7 separate regions of the Homo sapiens genome follow, and regions 2, 3, 4, 5, 6 and 7 are each linked to region 1. The links come from fine-mapping of genetic effects on gene expression. A gene starts in region 1. Each other region holds a variant in brackets. All regions are shown on one strand. Distances are from middle to middle.

The links. PIP is the estimated chance that this variant, and not a neighbour inherited with it, causes the effect.
Region 2: its variant is the best candidate, but not a certain one, in a credible set for the expression of CA2 in whole blood (TOPMed, PIP 0.88).
Region 3: its variant is the best candidate, but not a certain one, in a credible set for the expression of CA2 in whole blood (TOPMed, PIP 0.83).
Region 4: its variant is the best candidate, but not a certain one, in a credible set for the expression of CA2 in whole blood (TOPMed, PIP 0.89).
Region 5: its variant is the best candidate, but not a certain one, in a credible set for the expression of CA2 in whole blood (INTERVAL, PIP 0.90).
Region 6: its variant is the best candidate, but not a certain one, in a credible set for the expression of CA2 in whole blood (INTERVAL, PIP 0.74).
Region 7: its variant is the best candidate, but not a certain one, in a credible set for the expression of CA2 in whole blood (INTERVAL, PIP 0.61).

What each region holds. Positions count from the first base shown.
Region 1 is chr8:85,462,107-85,466,175 of GRCh38, reverse strand. It overlaps CA2 (carbonic anhydrase 2), which reads right to left and starts at 2,169. Exons shown (of 7, transcript NM_000067.3): 1 at 2,061-2,169; 2 at 707-904. The coding sequence starts at 2,094. It overlaps CA3-AS1 (CA3 antisense RNA 1), which reads left to right and starts at 1,261. Exons shown (of 3, transcript NR_121630.1): 1 at 1,261-1,594; 2 at 3,375-3,440. RefSeq lists enhancers at 1,561-2,060, 3,961-4,069 and silencers at 1,704-2,173, 2,284-2,603, 2,674-2,933.
Region 2 is chr8:84,848,369-84,852,437 of GRCh38, reverse strand. It overlaps RALYL (RALY RNA binding protein like), which reads right to left. Exons shown (of 9, transcript NM_173848.7): 5 at 2,411-2,458. Among named protein-coding and RNA genes, the nearest start is that of LRRCC1, 260 kb to the left of the region's middle. The variant T/C (reference allele first, on the strand shown) is at 1,920.
Region 3 is chr8:85,947,366-85,951,434 of GRCh38, reverse strand. No RefSeq gene overlaps it. Among named protein-coding and RNA genes, the nearest start is that of LINC02849, 94 kb to the right of the region's middle. The variant A/C (reference allele first, on the strand shown) is at 1,887.
Region 4 is chr8:85,867,975-85,872,043 of GRCh38, reverse strand. No RefSeq gene overlaps it. Among named protein-coding and RNA genes, the nearest start is that of LINC02849, 15 kb to the right of the region's middle. The variant G/T (reference allele first, on the strand shown) is at 1,897.
Region 5 is chr8:85,642,786-85,646,854 of GRCh38, reverse strand. It overlaps the pseudogene REXO1L8P. Among named protein-coding and RNA genes, the nearest start is that of CA3-AS1, 180 kb to the right of the region's middle. The variant G/A (reference allele first, on the strand shown) is at 1,696.
Region 6 is chr8:85,289,953-85,294,021 of GRCh38, reverse strand. No RefSeq gene overlaps it. Among named protein-coding and RNA genes, the nearest start is that of CA13, 47 kb to the right of the region's middle. The variant T/G (reference allele first, on the strand shown) is at 2,406.
Region 7 is chr8:85,827,029-85,831,097 of GRCh38, reverse strand. It overlaps the pseudogene REXO1L6P. Among named protein-coding and RNA genes, the nearest start is that of LINC02849, 26 kb to the left of the region's middle. The variant C/T (reference allele first, on the strand shown) is at 2,105.

The sequences.
Region 1 (4,069 bases):
AAAGCAGGATTTTTTTTCTTCTTTCTCTTTCTTTTTTTTTTTTTTTTTACAGTGAGCATCCTGTAAACAGCTCTATTACCAATAAATACGGTAATTGGTTTTGTCAGTAATGGGCCAGGTATGTTCACCAACTCTAAAACATCTTCGTTTGTGAAATGAATTTCTGAGTAGATATCAAAACATGCTGCCATCTTTATCACACTAGCCCAATACTAAGAAATACTCATAAGTAAAACATTTTCCCAGAATTTCAGTATTTTAAATTGGCACGTTTTTGTTACTCTTCTCGCTGCTAACTTGAAGATAAGGCTCACTAAGATATACTTTTTAATGGATATGCATCAGCTCTGCAAGACAAAATATTTTACAATCTTAAAAGTTCAATTGGTGCAAATCTCATCGTGACTGATCTTTATTGCGAGGGGACTTTGCACCTTTTGTGATTTTTCACAGGCATATCGCAGTTATTCAATGGCCTTCATAGAAGCCAAGGGTTTTACAGGGAAGAAACGGCCCCGGGACACTTCAAACTAATTAGCCTACTTCTCAGAATCTGAGACCTAATGAAAATGATCAGGGTGGCATCCTTGAGTCCTGAGACAAACTGTATTATTAAGAGGGTTCCTGCCACTGTTCCTGGCTCCTTCCATTAAGCTCGGAAAACAGCTACTGGCTAAAAGACACAAGTTATTTTCTAAACACTGACCTGCTTTGTCCTGAGAGTCATCAAACTCCACGTTGAAAGCATGACCATTGTTGAGGATCCTCAGGGAAGTTGCTTGATCATAGGAAACAGACAGGGGCTTCAGGGAAGGGTCATACTTGGCTGTATGAGTGTCGATGTCAACAGGGGACTGGCGCTCTCCCTTGGCAATGGGGAAGTCCTTATGCCAGTGCTCAGGTCCTGGGGGAAAGAAGACATGTGAATCCCCCATTGTGGGGAAAGGTACACCCAGACCCCTAGAGAAGAGCAATCATTCCGGAGCCAATCTGCTCAGTTCCAATTTTAGAAGCATCACTTAACAATGGGCTAAATTTTGGGAAAACACGTAATCTGTGCCTCAGTTTCCACATTTGTAATATGGGATAATTAGAAATCTACCTCATAGATGTCGCTGTAAGAATTAGAATCGATATATGTAAAGCTCTTAGATCACTGAGTGCTATATAAATATTAGCTATTTTAAGGTCGTTTTACTGAAATTCAGCAACTGAAATCGGGCAGACACTAATGTCAGGGCTTGTGGTTGCGATTTTGGGATATGCAAGCTCACTTAAGACATTCAAGGAGGTCTGGATCCTTTCCTCACTGCCCAGGCCCGGGCCCACCCCACCTTTAACCGTCAGGGTTCCCCACTACCTGGGAAGCCCCACACCCTCCAAAGATGCGCTAGGTGCGCCAGACGCATGCTCCTCTGCTCCGCTGGCTCCGAAGAACCAGATCTGAGGCCAAGATAAAACCCGATTCCTGATGTCCGACCCCCTAACATTAGAAGTCGAGAGATGAAGGGAAAACTCGGAAATCAGAGCCATGGATTCAAACCAGCACTGGAAAATGCCCCGGGACAGTTCGTGCTGAGCGCCTTAGCCACAGGTGGTGCTGAAGCTGGAGGGGTGGGGTGGGGGTGGAAGGTGGGGGAGGGGGGAGGGGAGTCTCTTAATTTCTCTGCGATCAACAACTAGAATTTTCCGTTACAACCCTTTCCCGCCTCCTCCTAGGTCCGGTTAAAATGATCCCCAGGTCGGGACCCGGGAGGGACTGTCCTCGGGTCCCGCGGCCAGGGCTGCGCCTCCCCTCCCTCGGGCCCTACGCGCCTCCGGCGGACGCGGGGATTCCTCCACAGTGGCCTCGCAGCTGGGGCAAGGGGGACATCCCCGGCGCCGCGGAGCCGCGAGCGGAGCGAGCGCCCGGGGCGCACCTGAGCCTCCAGCACTCCCCGCGGCCGCGGTAAACAGCATGTGCGGGCGCTGCGGGCCCCGGGCCGGCATCCGGGCTCGGGGATCGGGGATCGGGGATCGGGGATCGGGGCGCCCCCGCGCTGGCCGTCGCCGGCACTCACCGTTGTGTTTGCCGTACCCCCAGTGATGGGACATGGTCGCGCTGGCGGTCGGGGCAGGGCAGGAATCGGCACCGATCTGGCGGCGGCGGCTTGGGCGCCTGCACTGTGTGTCCGCGGGTCGCGCCGGCACCAGCTTTTATAGGCTCCCGCCAACTTCGTGCTCGGGGGCGGCCCGGGGGAGGGGGCTCGGGTGGACCTAGGCGACAAGGGGAGGTGGTGACGGGCGGAGGTGAACTCCCCGCGCTCGGGGCGGGGCGGGCCGGGCGGGCGAGTCTCCGGGGGCGGGGAAAACGCCCTCTCGGCTGGCGCCCGGCGGGGCTCCGGGGCTCCGGGGCTCCGGGGCTCCTCTCCCGCCGCCCGGCTCCCCTCGGCCCACGGCAGGGCCCCGGTGTCCTGGGCTGGCAGCGAAGCTCGGAGCTCTGGGCGTGCGGCGGCTGCGGTGGCTCCTGGGCTCCTCCGTCCAACCCGGGCCGCGGAGCCTCTACGCGCACCCCATCCCCCTCCCGGCTGCGGAGTCTGGCGGCGGCGGGGACTGCTCGGGACCCGGACCCCCGGCGCCTTTCGTCCCCTGTCCCCATTGTGACCTGTCTCTTGGCCCCGGAGCCCTCCCGCCCCACCCGCGCCGGGGTCTCCAGCGCGAAGGGCTCAGTCTCTGGTGTCCCCGGCCTGGGGCTGGCAAGCTGGGTTAGGAGCTATGACCTTGGGGCAAATAGGGATACGATCCTAGAGGCGCAGGGGAGCGCGCAGCATGAGTGCTGAGAGGCACGCGCCCTCTGCTGCACGGCCGTGGAATAAAACGAGACAACGGCCCCACAGTCCCCTGCCCGCAGCCCACGCTCGGGCGAGCCTGGAGGATTGCATTTCCTCGTAGGCTGGCAGAGCCTTACATGAAGCGCTCATCTTCTCCTACTTTCCTCCTCTTTAAAAAATTAACGTGGGTGAGGAGACGTCCTAGTTGAGTACATATTGATTTGAAATAACCAAAACTTTTAACAAATCACTTTTCTCAGAAGAATCCAGTAAGAGAAAGATAATTTCTTCCAAAGACATGAGACGTTCCCTGGCTGGCCAAGAAAAATTGGCATCTGGCATACCTAGGAATCATTCAAAATAGTTTAATAGGAAGGACATTTTGAGGCCAGCCAGCATTATGACATTTGTGGGTCCTACGGCATTTCACCTTGGTGGGTCCCTTTTTCATAAACACGCATTTATACCAACACTGACATAAAGATAAATATCTTAATATTATATATTTAAACATTTTCTTTAACCAACACCTAATTTTTTTCTTTTTTGTTCTTATTTTAAAAGGAAACATTTTCCTGGGCATCTAAAAGTATTGTGGACCTGAGACACTGTGCTTACAGGGCCTACTGGGTAAGTGAGGCTGTTTTGAGATATAGAGAGAATTCATTTCCTACAAGGGATTTTGCCACAGAAAAATCCGGGGGTTTGTGGGAAGGAGTTCGGTTCTGTGGTCTCTGCAATCTCTGAGGGCAATAGTATTAGAGTTACAGTTGGGGAAGCAGGACACAGTTTAATGTGATTGTGTCGGCCTTGACATCACATTACTTACCTTTGAAAATATACAGATAAATACAAGGATAAGTTATTAGTGGACATTTTTGCAATATGTATCTCAAAATCACTCTTTACTATTTATTTCAGTCAATTTCATCCAAACAAATATGATTCATGTTTAGACTTACTTGTTCTAAGATTCTAGAAAATTGTGTACTTCTGCTTATGTGGGTTTTGGGTTGATGTCACAGGGAATTCTTAGGCAAGAAAGCAGCAATAAAGTTTTTAAATTTTTAGGACCATTACAAAATGGAGTTTGTAGCAAAGAAGAAGCTTTTATTTGTGCCTCTGTAGGTGCATTGTATCTGTTGGGGCCCATTGATGTAATTTTGTTTCTTTACATAATTTTCAAATATTAACTTAGTTGCTATGAGACTCTTCACTTGGCCCTGGAGATATGGCGTTGATAGGTGCCAAGAATTGAG
Region 2 (4,069 bases), 610 kb after region 1:
ATATCCTTCCTTAATAGTAAATGGGATTATTTTAATGCTGCCAGATGTTTGCATCACTTTTAGAATAAGTTATGATAAGTTTCTTAATATTTAAAATATATTTTATAGAAATTATAAAATGCTTTGAGAAAATCATTCTTAAAGATTATATTTTTTTGTCAGAAAAGGATAACTAGTGAAATAAGTTGCTTAATTCAGTAGTTTGACCATTGCAGCAATGAAGTTACAGTTGTGGGTCTGATTCTCAAGTAGGAATCGCATAGCTCCATAGGCTGATATTGCCCTCCCCATTGTGCATATTCACATAGTTGGTTATTGAATCTAAATTGGATGCCTAGATTATGATCATAGTTCTGTCACTAATTAGCTTGGTGACCTTCGGAAAATGACTGTGTCTCTAAATCTAAGGAGATGAATTAATAATACAGAGTATCCACTATGTGTGAGGTTTACTGATAGTCCCCAAGGATACAAAGATAAGCAAAACTGAACATTGTTCAGGTGGGGGAAGGAAGACAGACATGAATCAAACACTGCAGAAAGAAATATAGCAATAGAAATTAGGAGAGGTGCTGTGAAGTAACAGTGCTGGGCGCTGAGCGAGAGGAACAGAGGAACCTAATTTAATCTGTGAGGGATGTTCGTGCTGAGATCTGAAAGATGAGGAGTCAAGTGAACCAGGTAGTGTAGGGAGGTATGAGGAGATGGAACAACACAGAGAAAGGACCTGAGGCAGGAAGAAACATGGAATTCTTGTGGAACTTACAAAAGGCCCTAGAGGCTGGAGCAGAGAGAATAAGACCCTTTCAAGGATCACAGTTACTTCCTCTTTAAAACATCTATTGAAAAATTTTTTCTAAGTTTGCATTTTTATACAGTACCTAAGGTTTTTTTTGTTGTTTGCATAATACTCATAATTAAAGGCTTAAAATATATTTACCTCATTTTTTAATCCCGTAATCTATCTATATATAGTTGATCCTCATCTCTGATATGCATAAATTTCAGTTACTGATATTAGTTAAATAACACCAGTTCTCCGACAACACAAATTTTAGTTACTACAACATATAAACGGTAAGTAATTTAATAAAGTCCAAACTTTGCTTCTAGCTTTTCCACAAATAAATGCATAAATAATAAATGTGCATGATAATAACAATGATCACTAATCACATTCCATCTTTCAAAGTCTGTCAATGATTTTTTTTGCTGTTCATTGATTATTCACTTCACTCACTTGTTTCAGATCATTAATTGTAATGCTTCCTTATCTCTCAGTGACAAAACGTGGCATTTTGCAAAATTGAATAATCAAAAGAAAGAATTGATCAAAGATGAAAATGCAGCAAAGAATCGAAGAGTGATAATACTAGATGTGAAACTCAAATTAAATGTAAATGAAATTACAGAAGAAATAGCTCATTATAGGGATATTGATACTCCTCTACTCAAGAGACTCTAGGTATGGAGTCAGAGGAACTTAGTAAAGGCAAACTTATCGACATAAGTGAGGAAAGTGGATGTGATGTGATGAAACGTATAACGCTATGGAGGGGAAGTGACCCTGGCAAGAGAATCACACATTGAAAGAACTCTCAGAGATAGTTCACAACATTGATAGAATGTCAAAGCTAATTCAACCTTAGAGAGGAGTATCCAACAAGGGATAAAACAGATGCCTACTCCGTATCCTGTCCTGAGTTAGGAAATGAGAAGGCATGCACTGTTTCAACTACTTTTGATAAGTGTTCTTTACAAAGAACTAAAACACCTTAATTCTTAATATTTTATTGTTTTAAATTATAGTATACTAAATAACAATTAGCTTTACTATAGTTTCCCATTAGTTTATAGAGAAGAGAATAAAAGTTGTTAATGTTTTGACAAACATGTTTAAGATCATGAGACAATCCTGT[T/C]TTTTCCTCATTGGATGGTCTCATCTTGCATCATCACCTTTGTGGCCTCCTACTGTCCTGCAAAGCAGGAACGATCTGTAAATTTTACAGACTCTACCCAATATAGCATTTTCAATGTTTTATTATGGACTTCAGAAGGTTGGAGTTATTTTTCTGAGTTTTCAAACTCTTGATCTTGAAGGATTCTAAATCAACAAATGACTTGGCAGATAATATTAGTTAATTAAATCTTTAGGATTTTATCTAAATATTAGACACCAAATCTTAGGTTTGAGCACCTCCAAAGTCCTAAAATTCCAAGATCCACTGTACTCAAGTAAGTATAATGAAAATATAAAAATCTGTATATTTTGTTGGGATTTAGTATTTTATTTTTAACTATAATAATATTGTTTTAAATACCATAATTAAGAGCACCCATGAATAAAATGTACAAAATGGTTAAAAGATAATTTAAGTCATAGGAAAACAAGGATGAAAAATTCACATACCGATTGTAGAAATCATCTCTGTAGTAATCATAGTCAAAGACATAACCGCTAAAGAGGGAAACAAAAAAATTAGTTGGCATTTGTTTCAATGACATTAATTTTATTATTAACTTATGATGTTATAGCATAAAATTTGTTACTTTTAAAATATTTATTTTTCAATATAATTATGCATCCAAAGGACCTTCCAAGATAATGTCCAATTTGATATAATGTCATGCCAAATTATTATTACATGTTTGACAATGTAGGGACTGATAATGGTGTGGTTTGGAATGAAAATCAGAACAGGTAGCAAAATAAATAAGTTAAAACTTTTCGGGCGCCTGTAGTCCCAGCTACACGGGAGGCTGAGGCAGGAGAATGGCATGAACCCGGGAGGCGGAGCTTGCAGTGAGCCAAGATCGCGCCACTGCACTCCAGCCTGGGCGACACAGAGCGAGACTCCGTCTCAAAAAAAAAAAAACAAAAACAAAAAACTTTTAATTAGGTATGAATGAAGACCATAGTTTTTCATCTCAGACAAGATAATCATATAGTTGTCCCTTCTCTCTGAGGTAATATAATTATCCCTTCTTCCTAAGGTATGTACAATGAGGCTACATAATGAACAAAAGGTATTGAAATAAGATAAATGGAAAGGTTTAATAACCCATTCATTATAGAAATGGTGAATAGAAATGTGGTTCCTTGGAAATTCAGGATTTTTTAATTCTAAAACTATGGATTCAATACTTTAAATAGAGAAAAATTAGAAAAATAACTGTGGCTGTCTTACCAACAATACCTTAATATTTTAGTATATTTAAATATGAATTAGTAAATGCATTTCAGAGATAACAGTATTACGACTAAGCTCCCTAAAAGAATATATTTTAAAAAGTCACCTCCATCCACTTGCCTTGTTGTTTGAATTTACGAAGCACTTTATATGCATTTCAATTACAGTCATCAAAACAACTCTGTTGGACAGCATAACCTGAAGAAATTAAGGTGCAACAGACCTAAGTGACTTGCTCAAATTTGCATTCCTACTAGGTGACAGAGCTGAGATTTAAGGGAAAGTTTTCTGATTTCACAAGTGGGGTCATTTTGACAACATCTCGCAACACTCCCCAACCTGGAAGAAGTCTTAATGTGATGATGAATGGAGTAACTGTACCACAGGGGAGTAATTTAAAAAAAAAAGTTTACTTACTCGTTTTCTTTTTATTGTGGCAAAACATACATAACTCCATATTTACTATTCTAATCTTTTTAAAGTTTATGATTCAATGGCGTTAAGTACATTCACAAAATTGTACAAACATTGCCACTACCCATTTCAATAACCTTATCATCAACCTAAACAGAAACTTTATACTCATTAAACAATAACTTCCCATTCCTGCCTCTCCAGCCTCTGTCATTAATACAAATACAAATCATACAATCATATAGTCATACAATATTTGTTCTTTTGTGTTTGGCTTATTTTACTTAGCATAATATTTTCAAAGTTTATCCATGTAGTATGTATCAGAATTTCATTCCTTTTTGAGGATGAACAATATTCCATTGGGATGAGATATATACATATATATATATATACACACACACACATATATATATACACACACATATATATATGCACACACACACACAAAATATTTAAAAGTA
Region 3 (4,069 bases), 490 kb before region 1:
CTCTCTTCTTCTTCTTTCCTTCTTTCTTTCTCTTTTTTTTTTTTTTTTTTTTTTGAGATGGAGTCTTGCTCTGTCACCCAGGCTGGAGTGCAGTGGTGCGATCTCAGCTCACTGCAAGCTCTGCCTCCTGGGTTCATGCCAATCTCCTGCCTCAGCCTCCTGAGTAGCTGGGACTACAGGCGCCTGCCACCACGAGCTGCTAATTTTTTTGTATTTTTGGTAGAGACGGGGTTTCACCATGTTAGCCGGGATGATCTTGATCTCCTGACCTCGTGATCTGCCCGCCTCAGCCTCCCAAAGTGCTGGGATTACAGGCGTAAGCCACCGCACCCGGCCCTCTTTTTTTTTTTTTTTTTTTTTTTTAAGCAACTGAAGTTTGTTCAGGGAACAAATAAGTTGCCTTAAAGACTATTTAAGTATAAGCAGAAGAAACATTTGAATGTTTAAAGTCTTAGAAAAAGCTAAATTAAGGGCCTAATTCTATTGAAGACTTTCAAATACCAATATTATGTTCAACTTACCTCTTGTTAGATTCATTTAGGCGCAATGTTCTGGACACGCTGTCAAATTGTTAAGAATGATGGACAAGATCTGGAAGATAAGGCAGTGGGTTAAGGGATGCATTTCAGGGTGCTTGTGCAAAAGAAGATCTGGAAAGTTGGAGTCCTCAACTCCAAGGGTGATATCTGAGAGAGTACAATGAAGATTCCAAAGAAGGTGAATTGTAACTACACAGAGAGAAAGAAGGAAAAACTGAGAAATAGATATTGGGCTTAAACATCTATTCAATCTACAAATCAAAAATAAGGTAGATAAGCAAGCAGGTAGGGAAGAAAATGAGCAGGTGAACAGGAGAAAGCAGAGCTAGTTGATCAAGAAAATAAAAAAAGAATCAGATGAGAGTTAGAAGACAATGTTGGGGCCGGGTGCAGTGGCTCATGCCTGTAATTCCAGCACTTTGGGAGGCTGAGGTGGGTGGATCACAAGATCAGGAGATCGAGACCATCCTGGCTAACAAGGTGAAACCCTGTCTCTACTAAAAACACAAAAAATTAGCCAGGAGTGGTGGCAGTCGCCTGTAGTCCCAGCTACTCGGGAGACTGAGGCAGGAGAATCGTGAACCCGGGAGGCGGAGTTTGCAGTGAGCTGAGATTGAGTCACTGCACTCCAGCCTGGGTGACAGAGCTAGACTCTATCTTAAAAAAAAAAAAAAAAAAGAAAAGAAAAAAAGGAAGACAGTGTTGGTAGCAGAGTCAATGAGGTGAAGTTTTGCACAAACACAGTTGTGATATTACGTACTTCGTTGGATCAGTGGCATAATTCTTGCCTCTCACCCAGGTTCGATTATTAATAATATACTTTATCTTACCCACCACTGTCCCAAATATGACATAAAGTAGTGCAGATAATCAGCTATGCTTTCCTTATATATGATCGAAGTGGTACATTTTATAGATTGACAATTTAGTGAGGTATTCGGTTCTTAAATAATGAAATTAAGTGTGATTTTGAATTTGGATTAAATACTTCCTAAAGTAACTATGCTAGAGTAAACCAGACTTCAGTTTAATTTTAGGAAAATGCACTGGTGGTTTAAAATAAAGCACTTTCAAAGTATGCTGCCTGTTGTTTTCTTAAAAAGTTTTAGAAGAAAAAATCTGTAAACACCAAGGCATGACTATTTTTAAATGAAATAAATTTAAATGCATTTTCCTTGTTTCTTGAAATTTGCAATTTACAGTTTATGCAAAAATCATTTTCATTTGGCTGCTGACTTGGTAAATATTTGAAACACAAACACAAAATATGGATGCAAAAAGTTTTAATATAATCTGCTTGCTACAATCTTTAAATTCTCTACATCTTTTGACTTCTACAGCTTTGTG[A/C]CATATCAAAATTGACACAAGGCATTTATTTAGAAGACTTCACATTGAGAGACTTTAGCAAATCAAGATTCATTGGGCCTTTCATAAATTTATTTTTAAAAATCTGGATCTAATATAGAAATACGTAAAGAAAATGTAGTTTAGTATGCAAAATAAACATTTTGAAGACTCAGTTGTTCTATTCATGGACTTTTTTGGATAAAAATATTCATATCTGTGTTTCTGGCCTTGTTTATGTGGGACAAAGGGATCAAATATAAATCAAAAGTTGGTTTGCACTGTCTGTATGAAGCTGTTGGTTTACAAGTCAGAAATCTCAGCACCTGTAAACAACATCTCATACAATTTCTTGTTTTTTGTTTTTTTTTTTTTTTTAATTTGCATAGTTCTTGCTAGTTAAAAGCACTGTTCTGCATACGTTAGTCAATTCTGGTCTTCCAAGATGGAGGAAAGTCCCGTGGAAGGTGAAGTAGAAGTCAGGGAAAGCCTTCAAGCAGCAACGTAGGTCTGACCTGAGGAAGGAGAGGAGCGAATGGAGGATCGGGTAGGAAGAGCCTCTGAGTGCAGCACAGCTCCGAGGTCTTGGCCAGGCCAATGGTGGAGCCTTAGGAACAAATATTGGCCATTGGAAGAGTCCTGTGTTGTGCAGAAATGGCCCAACTCTAGTACTCCCACCGTGCTCAGGTACTGGCAGAAGCAACCTGGGGAGAGAGTCACCTCAGTGCGAATGCTCCAGTGGATCCTAAAAATGCGGCCGCTGGAAGTGTCAGCCAACTACACACTTGAAGGGGCACAGCTTCTTCTGAGGGGCACAGCTTCATGGCTGCTCAGTGGGAAAGCCACACAGGCTAGAGAGGGGAACAGATGAACTGCAATCTTTTCGTTTAAGTCATTTTGCCCACTCCCTTGTAATGATAATAATAATAGTTACTATGATTATTATTTCATGGCTCAACTTACAAAGAGCTATTATATAATTTATCTAATTTTATCATCCTCACCTCACAAATGAAGGGGCTCAGAGAGGTTAAGTGACTTTGCCCAAATTCATTTTTATCAGTGCCAGGACTTTCTTCACTAAACCACAGCTGTTACCATTTTCATGCAGATACAGTTTCAGATACTTTATCCTGATCTTTCTTCTTTTCTGATGAAATCTAACACATTGACAAAAAAGTAAATATAACTTGTATGCACATTCCAGTGAATAATTATTAAGCATATATCTGTATAACCACAAGTAGAACATTGCTAATATCCCAGAAGTCCTGAAATGCCTTTTCCCCATCACAGCCTCATTCTTTTCTTGAAAGGAAGCCACTGCCCTAACTTTTGTGACCACTTATTCTTACTCTTCTTTATGGTTATATGACATAAACATGCATCCTTAAATAATGTAATTTAATTTTGCTTATTTATAAAGTTTATTTGGAAAACTTATAATTTAGCAGTTTTTGTGTTTTTCTTCTTAGTATTTGTGAGATTAATTCACAAATAAATTGCACATATTGCGAATTTATTCATTTTCATTGAGGTGTACTATTCCATTTAATGAATGTACAACAATTTCCTTTTATATTCTACACTTGATAAATAGATGGGTTAGGGAATGGAAGGTGTTTTGTTTTGTTTTGTTTAACAAACAGGGCTGGAACAGAGATTTTCATATAGAAAAACAAACAACTGACACCTCACACTCTACACAAAAACTTACTTTAAATGACTTATAGACCTAAGTATAAAATTTAAATCTATAAAATCTATAGACAGAAACATAGGAAAAAATGTCTGTGCTCTTGGTTAGGCAAGAATTTCATAGACAGAAAATAAATGCATAAGAAGTTGATAAATTGGACTTCATTTAAAAAAAAATGATTTGTTCTCCAAAGACACCATTGAGAAAAATTAAAAGGCATGCCACGGAATGGATGGGCATTTTTACAACACATGAGTCTGACAACAGATTTGTATCTAGAATACATAAGTGTTTATTAAATATTAATAAAGATTAGTGTAGCTAAAATTAGAATAAGAATACATCAGAATATCTAAGAATATAATGCAACTAGAACTCCCATAATTTGCTTATGAGAATGCAACATAATAGAGTGACTTATTAAAACTGGAAGTTCCATAAAACATTAAACATTCCCTTGCCATATGACCCAGCCATTCTACTCTTA
Region 4 (4,069 bases), 410 kb before region 1:
GACAAAGAAGGCCATTACATAATGGTAAAGGAATCAATTCAACAAGAAGAGCTAACTATCCTAAATATATATGCACCCAATACAGGAGCACCCAGATTCATAAAGCAAGTCCTTAGAGACCTACAAAGAGACTGAGACTCTCACACAACAATAAAGGGAGACTTTAACACCTCACTATCAACATTAGACAGATCAATGAGACAGAAAGTTAAAAAGAATATCCAGGAATTGAACTCAGCTCTGCACCAAGTGGACATAATAGACATCTACATTACTCTCGACCCCAAATCAACAGAATATACATTCTTCTCAGCACCACATCACACTTTTCCAAAATTGACCACATAGTTGGAAGTAAAGCTCTCCTCAGCAAATGTAAAATAACAGAAATTATAACAAACTGTCTCGCATAATGCAATCAAACTAGAACTCAGGATTAAGAAACACACTCAAAACCGCTTAACTACATGGAAACTGAACAACCTGCTCCTGAATGACTACTGGGTAAATAATGAAATGAAGGCAGAAATAAAGATATTCTTTGAAACCAATGAGAACAAAGACACAACATACCAGAATCTCTGGGACACATTTAAGCAGTGTGTAGAGGGAAATTTATAGCACTAAATGCCCACAAGAGGAAGCAGGAAAGATCTAAAATGGACACCCTAACATCACAATTAAAAGAACTAGAGAAGCAAGAGCAAACACATTCAAAAGCTAACAGAAGGCAAGAAATAACTAAGACCAGAGCAGAACTGAAGGAGATAGAGACACAAAAAACCCTTCAAAAAATCAATGAATCCAGGAGCTGGTTTTTTGAAAAGATCAACAAAATTGATAGACCACTGGCAAGACTAATACAGAAGAAAAAAGAGAAGAGTCAAATAGACATAATAAAAAATGATAAAGGTTATATCACCACCAATCTCACAGAAATACAAACTACCATCAGGGAATACTATAAACACCTTTACGCAAATAAACTAGAAAATCTAGAAGAAATGGATAAATTCCTAGACACATACACCCTCCCAAGACTAAACCAGGAAGAAGTTGAATCCTTGAATAGACCAATAACAGGCTCTGAAATTGAGGCAATAATTAACAGCCTACCAATCAAAAAAAGTCCAGGACCAGATGGATAAACAGCCAAATTCTACCAGAGGTACAAGGAGGAGCTGGTGCCATTCCTTCTGAAACTATTCCAATCAATAGAAAAAGAGGGAATACTCCCTAACTCATTTTATGAGGCCAGCATCATCCTGATACCAAAGCCTAACAGAGACACAACAAAAATAGAGAACTTTAGACCAATATCCCTGATGAACATCCTCAATAAAATATTGGCAAACTGAATCCAGCAGCATATAAAAAAGCTTATCCACCAAGATCAAGTGGGCTTCATCCCTGGAATGCAAGGCTGGTTCAACATATGCAAATCAATAAACATAATCCAGCATATAAACAGAACCAAAGATGAAAACCACATGATTATCTCAATAGATACAGAAAAGGCATTTAAAAAAATTCAACAATCCTTCATGCTAAAAACTCTCAATAAATTAGGTATTGATGGGATGTATCTCAAAATAATAAGAGCTATTTATGACAAACGCACAGCCAATATCATACTGAATGGGCAAAAAGTGGAAGCATTCCATTTGCAAACTGGAACAAGACAGGGATGCCCTCTCTCACCACTCCTATTCAACACAGTGTTGGAACTTCTGGCCAGGGCAATCAGGTGGGAGAAAGAAATAAAGGGTATTCAATTAGGAAAAGAGGAAGTCAAATTGTCCCTGTTTGCAGATGACATCATTGTATATTTAGAAAACCCCATCGTCTCAGCCCAGAATCTCCTTAAGCTGATGAGCAACTTCAGCAAAGTCTCAG[G/T]ATACAAAATCAATGTGCAAAAATCACAAACATTCTTATACACCAATAACAGACAAACAGAGAGCCAAATCATGAGTGAGCTCCCATTCACAATTGCTTCAAAGAGAATAAAATACCTAGGAATCCAACTTACAAGGGATGTGAAGGACCTCTTCAAGGAGAACTACAAACCACTGCTCAACAAAATAAAAGAGGACACAACAAATGGAAGAACATCCCATGCTCATAGATAGGAAGAATCAATATCGTGAAAATGGCCATACTGCCCAAGGTAAATTATAGATTCAATGCCATCCCCATCAAGCTACCAATGACTTTCTTCACATAATTGGAAAAAACTACTTTAAAGTTCATGTGGAACGAAAAAAAAGCCCACATTGCCAAGACAATCCTAAACCAAAAGAACAAAGCTGGAGACATCACGCTACCTGACTTTAAACTATACTACAAGGCTACAGTAACCAAAACAGCATGGTACTGGTACCAAAACAGAGATATAGACTAATGGAACAGAACAGAGCCCTCAGAAATAATACCACACATCTTCAACCATGTGATCTTTGACAAACCTAACAAAAACAAGAAATGGGGAAAGGATTCCCTATTTAATAAATGGTGCTGGGAAAACTGGCTAGCCATATGTAGAAAGCTGAAACTGGATCCCTTCCTTACACCTTATACAAAAATTAATTCAAAATGGATTAAAGACTTAAATGTTAGACCTAAAACCATAAAAACCCTAGAAGAAAGCCTAGGCAATACCATTCAGGACATAGGCATGGGCAAGTGTTTCATGTCTAAAACACTGAAAGCAATGGCAACAAAAGCCAAAATTGACAAGTGGGATCTAATTAAACTAAAGAGCTTCTGCACAGCAAAAGAAACTACCATCGGAGTGAACAGGTAACCTATAGAATGGGAGAAAATTTTTGCAATCTACTCATCTGACAAAGGGCTAATATCCCGAATCTACAAAGAACTCAAACAAATTTACAAGAAAAAATCAAAAAACCCCATCAACAAGTAGGCGAAGAAGATGAAGAGACACTTCTCAAAAGAAGACATTTATGCAGTCAACACATACATGAAAAAATGCTCATCATCACTGGCCATCAGAGAAATGCAAATCAAAACCACAGTGAGATACCATCTCACACCAGTTAGAATGGGGATCATTAAAAAGTCAGGAAACAACAGGTGCTGGAGAGGATGTGGAGAAATAGGAACACTTTTACACTGTTGGTGGGACTGTAAACTAGTTCAACTATTGAACCATTGTGGAAGACAGTGTGGTGATTCCTCAAGGATCTGGAAGTAGAAATACCATTTGACCCAGCCATCCCATTACTGGGTATATACCCAAAGGATTATAAATCATGCTGGTAGAAGGACACATGCACACGTATGTTTATTGCAGCACTATTCACAATAGCAAAGACTTGGAATCAACCCAAATGTCCATCAATGATAGACTGGATTAAGAAAATGTGGCACATATACACCATGGAATACTATGCAGCTATAAAAAAGGATGATTTCATGTCCTTTGTAGCAACATGGATGAAGCTGTAACCATCATTCTCAGCAAACTATTGCAAGGACAGAAAACCAAACACTGCATGTTCTCACTCATAGGTGGGAATTGAACAATGAGAACACTTGGACACAGGAAGGGGAACATCACACCCCGGGACCTGTCAGGGGGTGGGAGGAGGGATGAGGGATAGCATTAGGAGATATACCTAATGTAAACGACGAGTTAATGGGTGCAGCACACCAACATGGCACATGTATACCTATGTAACAAACCTGCACATTGTACACATGTACCCTAGAACTTAAAGTATAATTTAAAAAAAAAATTTGTCCGATTTGTTTTGTAGCAATGGATAACTAGAACACTGGGGAAGTTACTTAAGCTTTCTGAGCCTCAGTTTTCACATGTTTAAAATGGGAATAATAAGAGTAACTAAAACCACATTGAGCTTTTATGAGTATTATACGAGATGAAAATATATCCATGTGGCACATCACAGTACTCAATAATGTTAGCAATTATCATTTGCAAAGATAGTTTAGACATCCTGACCAACCTAACTAGGTAATATTTGTAAGTTTCCATTTACCATGCATGATGATACTATTTTTTTTTCCTGAGACAGGATCTTGCACT
Region 5 (4,069 bases), 180 kb before region 1:
AATGATTTCCAATTAAGTTGTATTTCCAAATATCATGATTTCCATTTTAATGTAGTTGGTATGGAGCTCTGTGAGTGTGTGCTTCTTTTATTATGGATCACGTTCAGCTTCTTTTTATTTGCCTCCTAGTCATAATAGTAAAACTCTACTCCTCTACTCCGAGGAGTCCCTACCACCCATCTCATCACTTTCCAGCCCAGCACTCTTCATGCTCATTCATTTAAAGCATTCAACATTGTGTAAATGAATCTTGGAAGGCAAAAGCTACTGAATTTAGCGAATTTGTGGAGGCATTGCCACAAATCAGCCAGGTGAAGTTTCACACAATCGAAGACTGCACAACTCCTAGAAGGCAGCACTATGCTGCAAACCCAGACGGCCACTCTTCTCACCCCTCGTCCGTTTGCTGTTCTGGATAATGAGGTTCAAAAGTCACCTAGGCAACTGCCAAAATAGCTGAAATGGAGAAAGGGCTTCAGGCTGGTGACTAGCAGAGGTCCACCTGACCCCCGTAAGCTGCTGAACAAGTAGGGCTGCCAGAAATGTCCCACTAGGGAATTTGGTAGAGACGAAGACATGCTCACCGGACAAGGGTTCCTCCCAGGATACGCCCGAGCGGAAGAAGCGGGCTCTGAGCCACGCCCTTTCACCCTCCTCTACCCCGCCCTGGGCTGGTGAAGGTGCGCGCCAGGATGTGGACTACCGAGCCCTGAAGAAATAAGTCCTTCCACTTTGACCCCATGGAGGATTGCCTGTGAGGAACTTAAACGAGTCTACCAGTGTCTAGACACGGGGGCAGGTCTGTCCGGCACAGCAGCTCCCTCAAGGAGGAGAAGAGTGAGGAGAAAGGAAACTCAAGTCTCACCATTCTGTCCTGGGAGAGAAGAGGAGGATCTCATCTCTCATCTGTCCAAACAAGTCAAGGAGACTTTCTCTCATCTTTCCAAGCAAGGCAAGGAGACTTTTTATCATTAGGAAACAAAAAGAATTTAGAAGGAATGAAAGCAGCCCGTAAGGTGAATTCCTAAGGACTGCCCATTGAAACTGACAAAATTGCCCTTGTTTGATGAGAGGAATGAGCAGAGCATTGATGTGGTGAACAAGGATCTAGTGAGACTTTCCCAGCATGTTTCTACCAAAGCTTTATCTAAGCTTCTCAGAACACTCTCCTAATAAGCAGATGTTTGGCCTTTCAGAAAGTCAACAAGCAAAATGCCTTGAGTGTCCCAAAACACTGATGCCATGATGTGGGCTCCTGACTGGCCTCCTTTTCCTTTGACTGGACCGCTGCCACCTCTTGGTAGCCATCGCTTTCATGATGCTTTGCCTTGGAGATCATATTGGTGAAGCCATGTTCCAACTGCCGCTTACAATTTGTCAGAGGGATGCGTCAGGATCGTGATCCCTCCTGTTTAAAATTTCCACTGATAGCTCTCGTCGTAACTGCAGCTGATCTGGGCACAGTGGTTTTCACAGCCACTGCAGGATTCATCTTCCACATCTTCTCACCTCTTCTTGAAACAAGCTATACATTCGTAAAGAGTTCATTTCCTTGGGGTAGTGTCCTTATAAGCTTTTCTTAATACATCAATGATTTCTTCATTCTTCCACCCAAGCTTCACCATAAATTTGATGTTTCCTCTTGCTGCAATTTTCGTGGAATTCATATTGCTCTGACGGGAGTCCTTTTCAGTG[G/A]ATGTCTCATCCTTCTTAGTGCCTCAAACTAGATCTAGTTCAGAAAGTTTATAAGAAGTTAGGACAAGTTTATTTTAGTGCAAACCAGTGGAAATCCATGCATAGTTTCTTCACCATGTGCATTTTCTATGAACCTTTGGAAGACCCCCTGTGTTGAACATTGCCCAACTCCTGGGAGAGAAGTGGGTGCGGTCCACTTCCTGTCCTCAATTTGTCCGCAGCGGAGGAGTGCACAGAGCAAGGAAAGGCAACCCCAGAGAGATCCTGCCCTCCAGCATGCAGCAGACTGCTGGCCCAGTCCTGGCTCCATTGGGTGCTGTGTGGGCCCAAGCAAGTTGACCAACCTCCCTGAACCTTAATTTAATCCTAGGTAGCCCAATTCCAGTAGCCATTATAGGACTGCCCTGCAGGGACAGTTACTTAACTCAGGAAAAGCAACCTAGCTCCAAGTTTAGCAACCGGGAGCTCCAGTTGATTCCATTAGCGCACCCCCTGAGGCATTCCCAAGCTGGAGTCTGGTGGAAGATGAGGCTCAGGGTGATTGGACTGAAGCACCAACCTATCAAGGAGAAGTCCCACCCAGTCTGCCCTGTGCGTATATAAAGGCGACGCGTGGCGGCCGCAGCACTCATTGAAGCCGCCAGTTGGGAGAGGAGCAGAGCCAGGCCGGTGCTCCCGAAGGCAGCAAGATGTTGCGAGCCACAGCTCCCTGCTGGTTCCCACCTGGATACCCAGAAACTAAGAAGGTGGCCGAGGAGGCGGCCCTCGAGGCTCCAGAATTCCCACTGCCCTCTCATCAGCCTGCCCAGAGCTTCGGGCTCTGGGTGCCCCAGATGCACAAGCAGGCCTCAGCATTTGTGGACATCCAGGCAGAGCCCCAGAACAGGGGTCCGGCGGTGCCCCCAGCGTGGCCCAAGATGGTGACGGAGTCGTGCTACTTCCCTGCGCAGAGGGGATCGGCCTGCCGCTTGCCAGCCGCCCCAAGGCTGACAGAGAGGCCCTCGGGAGTCCGCATCTCAGCCCCCAGGAAGAGGAAGACGATCGCCCACTCTTCCAGCCCTTGCTTGGTCACAGGTTACACAGATGCCAAGAGAACCCGGGTGGCCAGCAGTAGCCAACGCTCCAGTGGCTCCAAGGTCGGCAGACAGCCAGGGAAGACGCGCAACAGGTCAGGGATGGCATGCAAGACCACCGCCACCATCAGCTCTAAGCGAATCGTCCGTCGTCCATCCTTACCGAGTTTGAAGAAACCCATTATCCTCCGAAGCTCTGGGTGCCAAGTCCCCACCGTCCTCCGCCGAGGCTATCTCCAACTGTTCACCGAAGAGTGTCTCAAGTTCTGCGCCTCCAAGCAGGAGGCCGAGGAGAAGGCGCTGAACGAGGAGAAGGTGGCCTACGACTGCAGCCCCAACAAGAACAGGTACCTGAACGTGGTCCTGAACACCCTCAAGAGACTGAAGGGCCTGACCCCCAGCTCCATGCCCGGCCTCAGCAGGGCCGCCCTGTACAGCCGCCTCCAGGAGTTCCTGCTCACCCAGGACCAGCTCAAGGAGAACGGCTACCCCTTCCCGCACCCCGAGCGGCCCGGAGGCGCCGTCCTCTTCACTGGCCAGGGGAAGGGGCCCGGCGACTCCTCCTGCAGGGTCTGCTGCCGTTGTGGCACCGAGTACCTGGTGTCCTCCTCGGGCCGCTGTGTACGCGACCAGTTGTGTTATTATCACTGGGGGCGGGTCCGCTCGAGCCAGGTGGCTGGAGGCCGGGTTAGCCAGTACACCTGCTGTGCAGCTGCTCCTGGCTCTGTGGGCTGCCAGGTGGCAAAGCAGCACGTGCGGGACGGCCGCAAGGAGAGCCTCGATGGCTTCGTGGAGACCTTCAAGAAAGAGTTGTCCAGAGACGCTTATCCAGGAATCTACGCCTTGGACTGTGAGATGTGCTACACCACGCATGGCCTAGAGCTGACCCGCGTCACCGTGGTGGACGCCGACATGCGAGTGGTGTACGACACCTTCGTCAAGCCCGACAACGAGATCGTGGACTACAACACCAGGTTTTCCGGAGTCACCGAGGCCGACGTCGCCAAGACGAGCATCACGTTGCCCCAAGTCCAAGCCATCCTGCTGAGCTTTTTCAGCGCCCAAACCATCCTCATCGGGCACAGCCTGGAGAGCGACCTGCTGGCCCTGAAGCTCATCCACAGCACCGTGGTGGACACGGCCGTGCTCTTCCCGCACTACCTGGGTTTCCCCTACAAGCGCTCCCTCAGGAATCTCGCGGCCGACTACCTGGCACAGATCATCCAGAACAGCCAGGACGGCCACAACTCCAGCGAGGACGCAAACGCCTGCCTGCAGCTGGTGATGTGGAAGGTCCGACA
Region 6 (4,069 bases), 170 kb after region 1:
ATTACATGTTTGCTCTCTCAGAGTTGGACTTTGCAATATATACCTTATGAATAAGAACCAAAATATAAACACACTCCTTAAAGGGCAGAGTGGCTTCAGATTTGAAAATCTTACTTGAGTGCATGTGTTAACATGTCCAATATAAGGAAGTGCCAACTAGGGAAATGGTGGATTTATCACAGAATAGAAAACTGAAAACCACAGAAGCACATATTGCTAGTTTATCCAAATATATTCCAGTGTTTAAGAAAACATTAGTCAACAGGCCAAGTATTTTAGTCCTTTTGGCAAAACTATACATATTTTGAAGAAAATGCTGGGAAGTACAGCCAACAAAATTCTATTATTATGTCCCACTTTGAAAATGATTCTTTAGACGAGTCGGATGTTTCAGACAATTTCTTTCTCCTATTTGTCGTATTTTTCTGAGATCCATACTCACCAAGTAAACATCTTATATAATTTGGTTTCCTGTATAGAGTGGACTTCCTAGTGGTGCTCAAGAAATATTCTTTGAATGAACGTTCATGTTTGATTAGTGTTCCAGCTAATGTAAGACTCATATCACTCATTATAAATTAATAACTTGACTTTTTAACTTATATTTCAGACTTGTGAACTCACTTATGGTAAGTCTGCCCATGAGAAAGGGACATCGTGCTGACAAATTATGTTTCTGATTTTGCAGAGCTGAGAGTTTGACTCTATACCTAGAGGACTTCATCAAACTCCTGAGACTCCCTAGGGAAATAGCCATCTGGTCTACTCCTGGCCACATATGCCTATTGCAGTGCTATAATCCAGCAAAAACAAACAAACAAACAAAAACAACCTAAAGTGTAACAAATCTGTCAAGATAGATTACTGCTCTTTTCCAAGAGAAGAGGGAAGAACTGCAAGGTAGGGCCTTGGAAATGTAAATGCCTACAGGTAGAAGAGAAGGCATGAGAAGAAGTGGGAGGCCAATACGTGTAAAAGTTGAGACTGGGAAAGAGCGTGGCAAAGAAACTTGAAGTTCATGGTCAGAATCATTCAGAAATACACAAGAAAATAGAAGGCACTAGGGACAGGTTTTCAAAACCGAATGCTTAGAACAGGAGGGGTGGCAGTTTGCTAGGAACAAAACTAGATAGGGAATTTTTGTGGATAGAACCCAGGGAACTGCTTGGCCAGGGCCTTAAGAGACTATACAGTAAATTGTTGAGACTTGAATTCAAGGAATTAACTCAAACACAATGAAAATTATATTGTCCCTTTAGCATCTAAACAGGAATTAACACAGATCCCTTGGCCTTGGACTTGATGGGAGGAAGTAAAGTGGCAAGGAAGAGATAACAGTAAAAGTGAGGAAAGGCCATAAAGGAAGAGGGAACCTAGAGTGCCTGGAATAGAGTGACGAGTGCTGTGTCTAATAGTGTGAGACAGTGTGAATACTATTACCTTTTGGTATCTAGGTAATATATTTGTGTAGGTGTATATGGTTTTATTACAGCATATGCCACTTTGCTCAGTAGAATTGATCACTACTTTAGAAGAAAGGAGTGCTGGGACGAACAAGTGGTAGGACACTGAATCATGGGGCTTGCTTTACAGGAGTGCTTTTTTTTTTTTTTTTTTTTTTGAGATGGAGTCTTGCTCTGTCGCCCAGGCTGGAATGCAGTGGCGCAATCTTGGCTCACTGCAACCTCTGGCTCCCAGGTTCAAGCGATTATCCTATCTCAGCCTCAAAAGTAGCTGGGATTACAGGCACGTACCACCACACCCAGCTAATTTTTGTTGTTGTTGTATTTTTAGTAGAGATGGGGTTTCACCATGTTAGCCAGACTGGTCTCGAACTCTTGACCTCAAGTGATCCACCTGCCTTGGCCTCTCAAAGTGCTGGGATTAAAGGCGTGAGCCACGGTGACTGGCCACAGGAGTAGTTCTTAATCCTTCTGGTCTCAGGACCCTTTTCACTCTTAAGAGTTACTGAAGATCTCAAAGAGCTTTTGTTTATGTGGATTATATCTGTTGATATTTACTGAATTGGAAATTTAAACAGAAGATTTAAAGTATTTCTTTATTAATTCATTTAAAGGTAATAAATGCATATAATGAATAATAAATTAGCATAAATAACAAATTTTGTGTAAATAATATTTTACCAGAAAAGGTATTAAAAAAAGAGATATTTACATTTTTTATAAATCCCTTAATGTCTGGCTAAATAGAAGACAGCTGGATTTTTACAGCTGTTTCTGCATTCAATCTGCTGTGATAGGCTGTTTTGTTTGAACTGCTTGAAGGAAATCCAGACACACAGATATGTAGCTTGAAAAATGGAGGAGGAAGTTAGTAGCTTTTTCAGATAATTGTGTATATTTGTCTTCAGTACTACACCAAAACCTAACAAGTAGTGGTTTTTT[T/G]TTTTTTTGAGAAGGAGTCTTGGCTCTTGTCACCCAGGCTGGAGTGCAATGACGCGATCACGGCTCACTGCAACCTCCGCCTCCCCGGTTCAAGCGATTCTCCTGCCTCAGCCTCCCAGGTAGCTGGGATTACAGCTGTCCGCCACTACACACAGCTAATTTTTGTATTTTTAGTAGAGACAGGGTTTCACCATGTTGGCCAGGCTGGTCTCAAACTCCTGACCTCATGTGATCCGTCTGCCTCGGCCTCCCAAAGTGCTGGGATTACAGGCATGAGCCACAATGCCCGGCCACAAGTGATGGTTTCTTAAAACCATATGAATAAACTTTATGAATAAACCACAGGAATAAACTTTTCATACTTGTTCCAGTAAAATCTATTGTTCTATATTGAATTTTGGATAGACAGATTTTTCTGTGCATGCCTGTGTAACATCATGCACTGGTCATTTAGAAAATATCAGTCCACCAAGTTGGGCATATCTTCAAAATGTTAACACAATTCATTATAAAATATCTCCCCCAGATCACATTTATTCAAATAACCAGTGGTCTAATTAGAAATGTCTCCATCCCTTGAAAAGCAGGCAAGCCGACAGAGGCAGATACAAACTTTCCAAAATCCAAATTTTCTCTTGAAAAATCTTATTTTACTATTGCCCACAAATACTTTAGCTTGTTTTTCTTGAAGTGACAAGCTCACTTTGTTCATTTCCAAGAAAATATTTGCCAATTACCCAAGCCTGAATATCCACAGTTTGTCAGTTTTTCTGTCAAATAAAAATGGTGCTCTACAAAAACAAAAAAAAAAAAAAAAAAAAGGCTAATTCAGTTTGCCATTCAGACACAATCACAGAAGTGCTTCCCTAAAGGTAATCGTCATACTTCAATATGCAGCAGAAGTTCTTCATTCGGGTTTTCCATTTCTTGACTCCAAATATTAAAAGAATGTAGACTCAGGGTTGGGATTTAATAAAATTAGTAATTTTTACTTAGGAACTAGAACATTCTTGAAAGACAATAACATTTTAAAACTGCGATTGGACAGTGGTGAAGACTACTAGTATTGTTTACTGCCACAGCCTTGATTTATGTAAGAAACCATCAACCCTTTTGTACCAGCAGTGCAAATGCCAAAACAGTTACTAAAAAAATGCAAATAACACTTGGTACTATTATAAAATAGTTTTGACCTCACTGACTCCGTGAAAGTGTCTCAAGGACCCCCAGGAGCTTGCCAATCCTACTTTGAGAACTGCTGGTCTACTGCACTGGCTGTGAAAGAAATTGTCCTAGTTGTCCAGATGATGGCAGCAGAAGATTTTACTCAGAGGAGAGATGCGCGAACCTTAGCCAGAACAAAAAAGGGCAACACTTGGTTAGAAATCCTGGGGAGGATGGGCGCTGTGCCTCACTTCTGTAATCCCAACAGGAGGCTGAGGCAGGTGGATCACCTGAGGTCAGGATTCAAGACCAGCCTTGCCAACATGGTGAAACCCCATCTCTACTGAAAGTACAAAAATTAGCCGGATGTGGTGATGTGTGCCTGTAGTCCCAGTTAATTGAACCTGGGGTGCAGAGGTTGCTGTGAGCTGAATTGTGGCATTGCACTCCAGCTGGGTGACAGAGTGAGACCCCTTCTCAAAACAAACAAACAAAAAAAC
Region 7 (4,069 bases), 360 kb before region 1:
TTTCACTTCTTTCAGCAGTAGATCAATGGAGTCCATATTAATACCTTACTAGCATTTAGAACTCGTGGGCCTATAACCTAAAAGACTAAAAATTGGTCAAAATTGAAATCTAGAAGATGAAGAATAGTGTGAAAAATGGAACACACATGTTTTGACCAGAAGCATTAGCATGAATGAGTAATCTCTGAGAGATGAGTAAGAACAAAAATATTTTTTAAAGTAGTATGTAAGAAATTAACCATAGAATTTGTTTCAACAGGGGTATAGAGAAAATTTAATAGATTTTTAAAAGCTTTAAACCAATCTGTGTGTTACAGAAGCAATAAATGGGGAAGCAAAGAACAATGGTCTGATACCAAAAGAACCCCACAGGCCAGTCTAGAAGTTCTTCAGCAGGAGATCATTGTCTTGGATGCATGGGTGGAGCCATGCTGCAGATCCTTTGTCTCTGTTGCGCAGATTGCATAATTGGTCCACTTAACTCTCCCTGACTTTGCCGGGTCCTCACGCTTCTGTCACCACCTATGCAGGCTGCTTTGTATTTCTTCATCATTGTTATGTTCAACATGAGGCCACCGTTCAAAAACATTATAAATAGGATTTGATAACAAACTTTCTAACTGCAATGAAAATAACGTCCAGGGTTTCAAGCACACACATCCTCTATATTAAAATGAGGTCTGAGTTGAGAAAAGCTGTATTTTGTGAGGGTCTGAGTTGAGAAAAGCACTCACAGGTGCTGGCTGAATGCTTGAGGATTTATAGAAGTAGAAAATTCTGCAGACCTTTGTGTGCTGTGCCAGCGGGGGTCAGGAAAGTTCTGAGAAATGACCTAATTAAATCAGTACATAATAGGAGAATAAAAATGCCTCACAGGCCTAAAGACACAATGAGTCTTTGACCAGATGCAGACTTTCACTGCATTTAAAGAAAGTACAGCTAAAGAAAGAAGTGGTCAGCAGGAAAAACAGCAAATGACAGCCAGACCCTCACTGTGTACCCACAGCTGGTTACATGAGAGAAAATATATCTGGGAGGTGAGAGTATTCTCAGTGAGAAGATGAAATTTCACAGGTGGCAGAGTTATTTCAAGATTTTCTAGACTTTGGAGAAACTATTTCCCCAAACTAATATCCCTTTCCTGAATTTTTATGAGGAAGGTATTATGGATAAATAACTGGAACATTGCAAGTTCTTTTTTGTTTGTTTGTTTGGGTTTTTTGTTTTTTGTTTTTTTGTTTGTTTGTTTTGTTTGTTTTTTTTGAGACAGAGTCTCGCTCTGTCGCCCAGGCGGTAGTGCAGTGGCGAGATCTCGGCTCACTGCAACCTCCAACTCCTGGGTTCAATTCTCCTACCTCAGCTTCCCGAGTAGCTGGGATTACCAGCACCCGCCATCATGCTCAGATAATGTTTGCATTTTTAGTTTACATTTTAGACAGGACCATGATCTCTCCTGTTTAAAATTTCCACTGAAAGCTCTCCTCCTAACTGCAGCTGATCTGGCCACAGTGGTTTCCATAGCAGTTGGTTTTCACAGCCACTGCAGAATTCACCTTCTACATCTTCTCATCTCTTCTTAAAACAAACTCTACATTGGTAAACGGCTGATTTCTGTGGGGGTATTGTCCTTACAAGCTTTTCATAAAACATCAATAATTTCTACATTATTCCACTCAAGCTTCACCATAAATTTAATGTTTGTTCTTGCTGCAACTTTAGCGGAATTCATGTTGCTCTGATAGGAGATGTTTTCAGTGGATGTCTCATCCTTCTTTATGCCTCAAACTACGTCTAGTTCAGAAAGGTTGTAAAAAGTTACTACAAGTTTATTTTAGTGCAAACAAACTGAAATCCATGAATAGTTTTTTAACCATGTGCATTTTCTATGAATTTTTTGAAGACCCCCAGTATTCAACATTGCCCATGTCCTGGGACAGAAGTGGATGTGGTCCACTTCCTGTCCTCCAATTGCCCACAGTGGAAGAGTGCACAGAGCAGGGAAACGCAACCCCAGAGAGATCCTGCCCGCCAGCATGCAGCGGACTGCTGCACCAGTCCTGGGTCCGTGGGATGTTGTCTGGGCCCGAACAAGTTGAACAACCTC[C/T]ATGAACCTCATTTTACTCCTAAGTAGCCCAGTTCCAGTAGCCATTATAGGACTGCTGTGCAGGCACAGTAAATTAACTCAGGAAAAGCAACCTAGCTCCAAGGTTAGCAACCAGGAGATCCAGTTGCTTCCATTAGCAGACCCTCTGAGGCATTCCGAAGCTGGAGTCTGGTGGAAGATGAGATTTAGTGTGATTAGAATAAAGTACCAACGTAATCAAGAAGAAGCCCCACCCACTCTGACCCATGCCTATATAAAGGCGATGCGCGACCACCGCGACACTGATTGAAGCCGCCAGTGGGGAGAGGAGCAGAGCCAGGCCGGTGCTCCCGAAGGCAGCAAGATGTTGCGAGCCACAGCTCCCTGCTGGTTCCCACCTGGATACCCAGAAGCTAAGAAGGTGGCCGAGGAGGCGGCCCTCGAGGCTCCAGAATTCCCACTGCCCTCTCATCAGCCTGCCCAGAGCTTCGGGCTCTGGGTGCCCCAGATGCACAAGCAGGCCTCAGCATTTGTGGACATCCAGGCGGAGCCCCAGAACAGGGGTCCGGCGGTGCCCCCAGCGTGGCCCAAGATGGTGACGGAGTCGTGCTACTTCCCTGCGCAGAGGGGATCGGCCTGCCGCTTGCCAGCCGCCCCAAGGCTGACAGAGAGGCCCTCGGGAGTCCGCATCTCAGCCCCCAGGAAGAGGAAGACGATCGCCCACTCTTCCAGCCCTTGCTTGGTCACAGGTTACACAGATGCCAAGAGAACCCGGGTGGCCAGCAGCAGCCAACGCTCCCGTGGCTCCAAGGTCGGCAGACAGCCAGGGAAGACGCGCAACAGGTCAGGGATGGCATGCAAGACCACCGCCACCACCAGCTCTAAGCGAATCGTCCGTCGTGCATCCTTACCGAGTTTGAGTTTGAAGAAACCCATTATCCTCCGAAGCTCTGGGTGCCAAGTCCCCACCGTCCTCCGCCGAGGCTATCTCCAACTGTTCACCGAAGAGTGTCTCAAGTTCTGCGCCTCCAAGCAGGAGGCCGAGGAGAAGGCGCTGAACGAGGAGAAGGTGGCCTACGACTGCAGCCCCAACAAGAACAGGTACCTGAACGTGGTCCTGAACACCCTCAAGAGACTGAAGGGCCTGACCCCCAGCTCCATGCCCGGCCTCAGCAGGGCCGCCCTGTACAGCCGCCTCCAGGAGTTCCTGCTCACCCAGGACCAGCTCAAGGAGAACGGCTACCCCTTCCCGCACCCCGAGCGGCCCGGAGGCGCCGTCCTCTTCACTGGCCAGGGGAAGGGGCCCGGCGACTCCTCCTGCAGGGTCTGCTGCCGTTGTGGCACCGAGTACCTGGTGTCCTCCTCGGGCCGCTGTGTACGCGACCAGTTGTGTTATTATCACTGGGGGCGGGTCCGCTCGAGCCAGGTGGCTGGAGGCCGGGTTAGCCAGTACACCTGCTGTGCAGCTGCTCCTGGCTCTGTGGGCTGCCAGGTGGCAAAGCAGCACGTGCGGGACGGCCGCAAGGAGAGCCTCGATGGCTTCGTGGAGACCTTCAAGAAAGAGTTGTCCAGAGACGCTTATCCAGGAATCTACGCCTTGGACTGTGAGATGTGCTACACCACGCATGGCCTAGAGCTGACCCGCGTCACCGTGGTGGACGCCGACATGCGAGTGGTGTACGACACCTTCGTCAAGCCCGACAACGAGATCGTGGACTACAACACCAGGTTTTCCGGAGTCACCGAGGCCGACGTCGCCAAGACGAGCATCACGTTGCCCCAAGTCCAAGCCATCCTGCTGAGCTTTTTCAGCGCCCAAACCATCCTCATCGGGCACAGCCTGGAGAGCGACCTGCTGGCCCTGAAGCTCATCCACAGCACCGTGGTGGACACGGCCGTGCTCTTCCCGCACTACCTGGGTTTCCCCTACAAGCGCTCCCTCAGGAATCTCGCGGCCGACTACCTGGCACAGATCATCCAGGACAG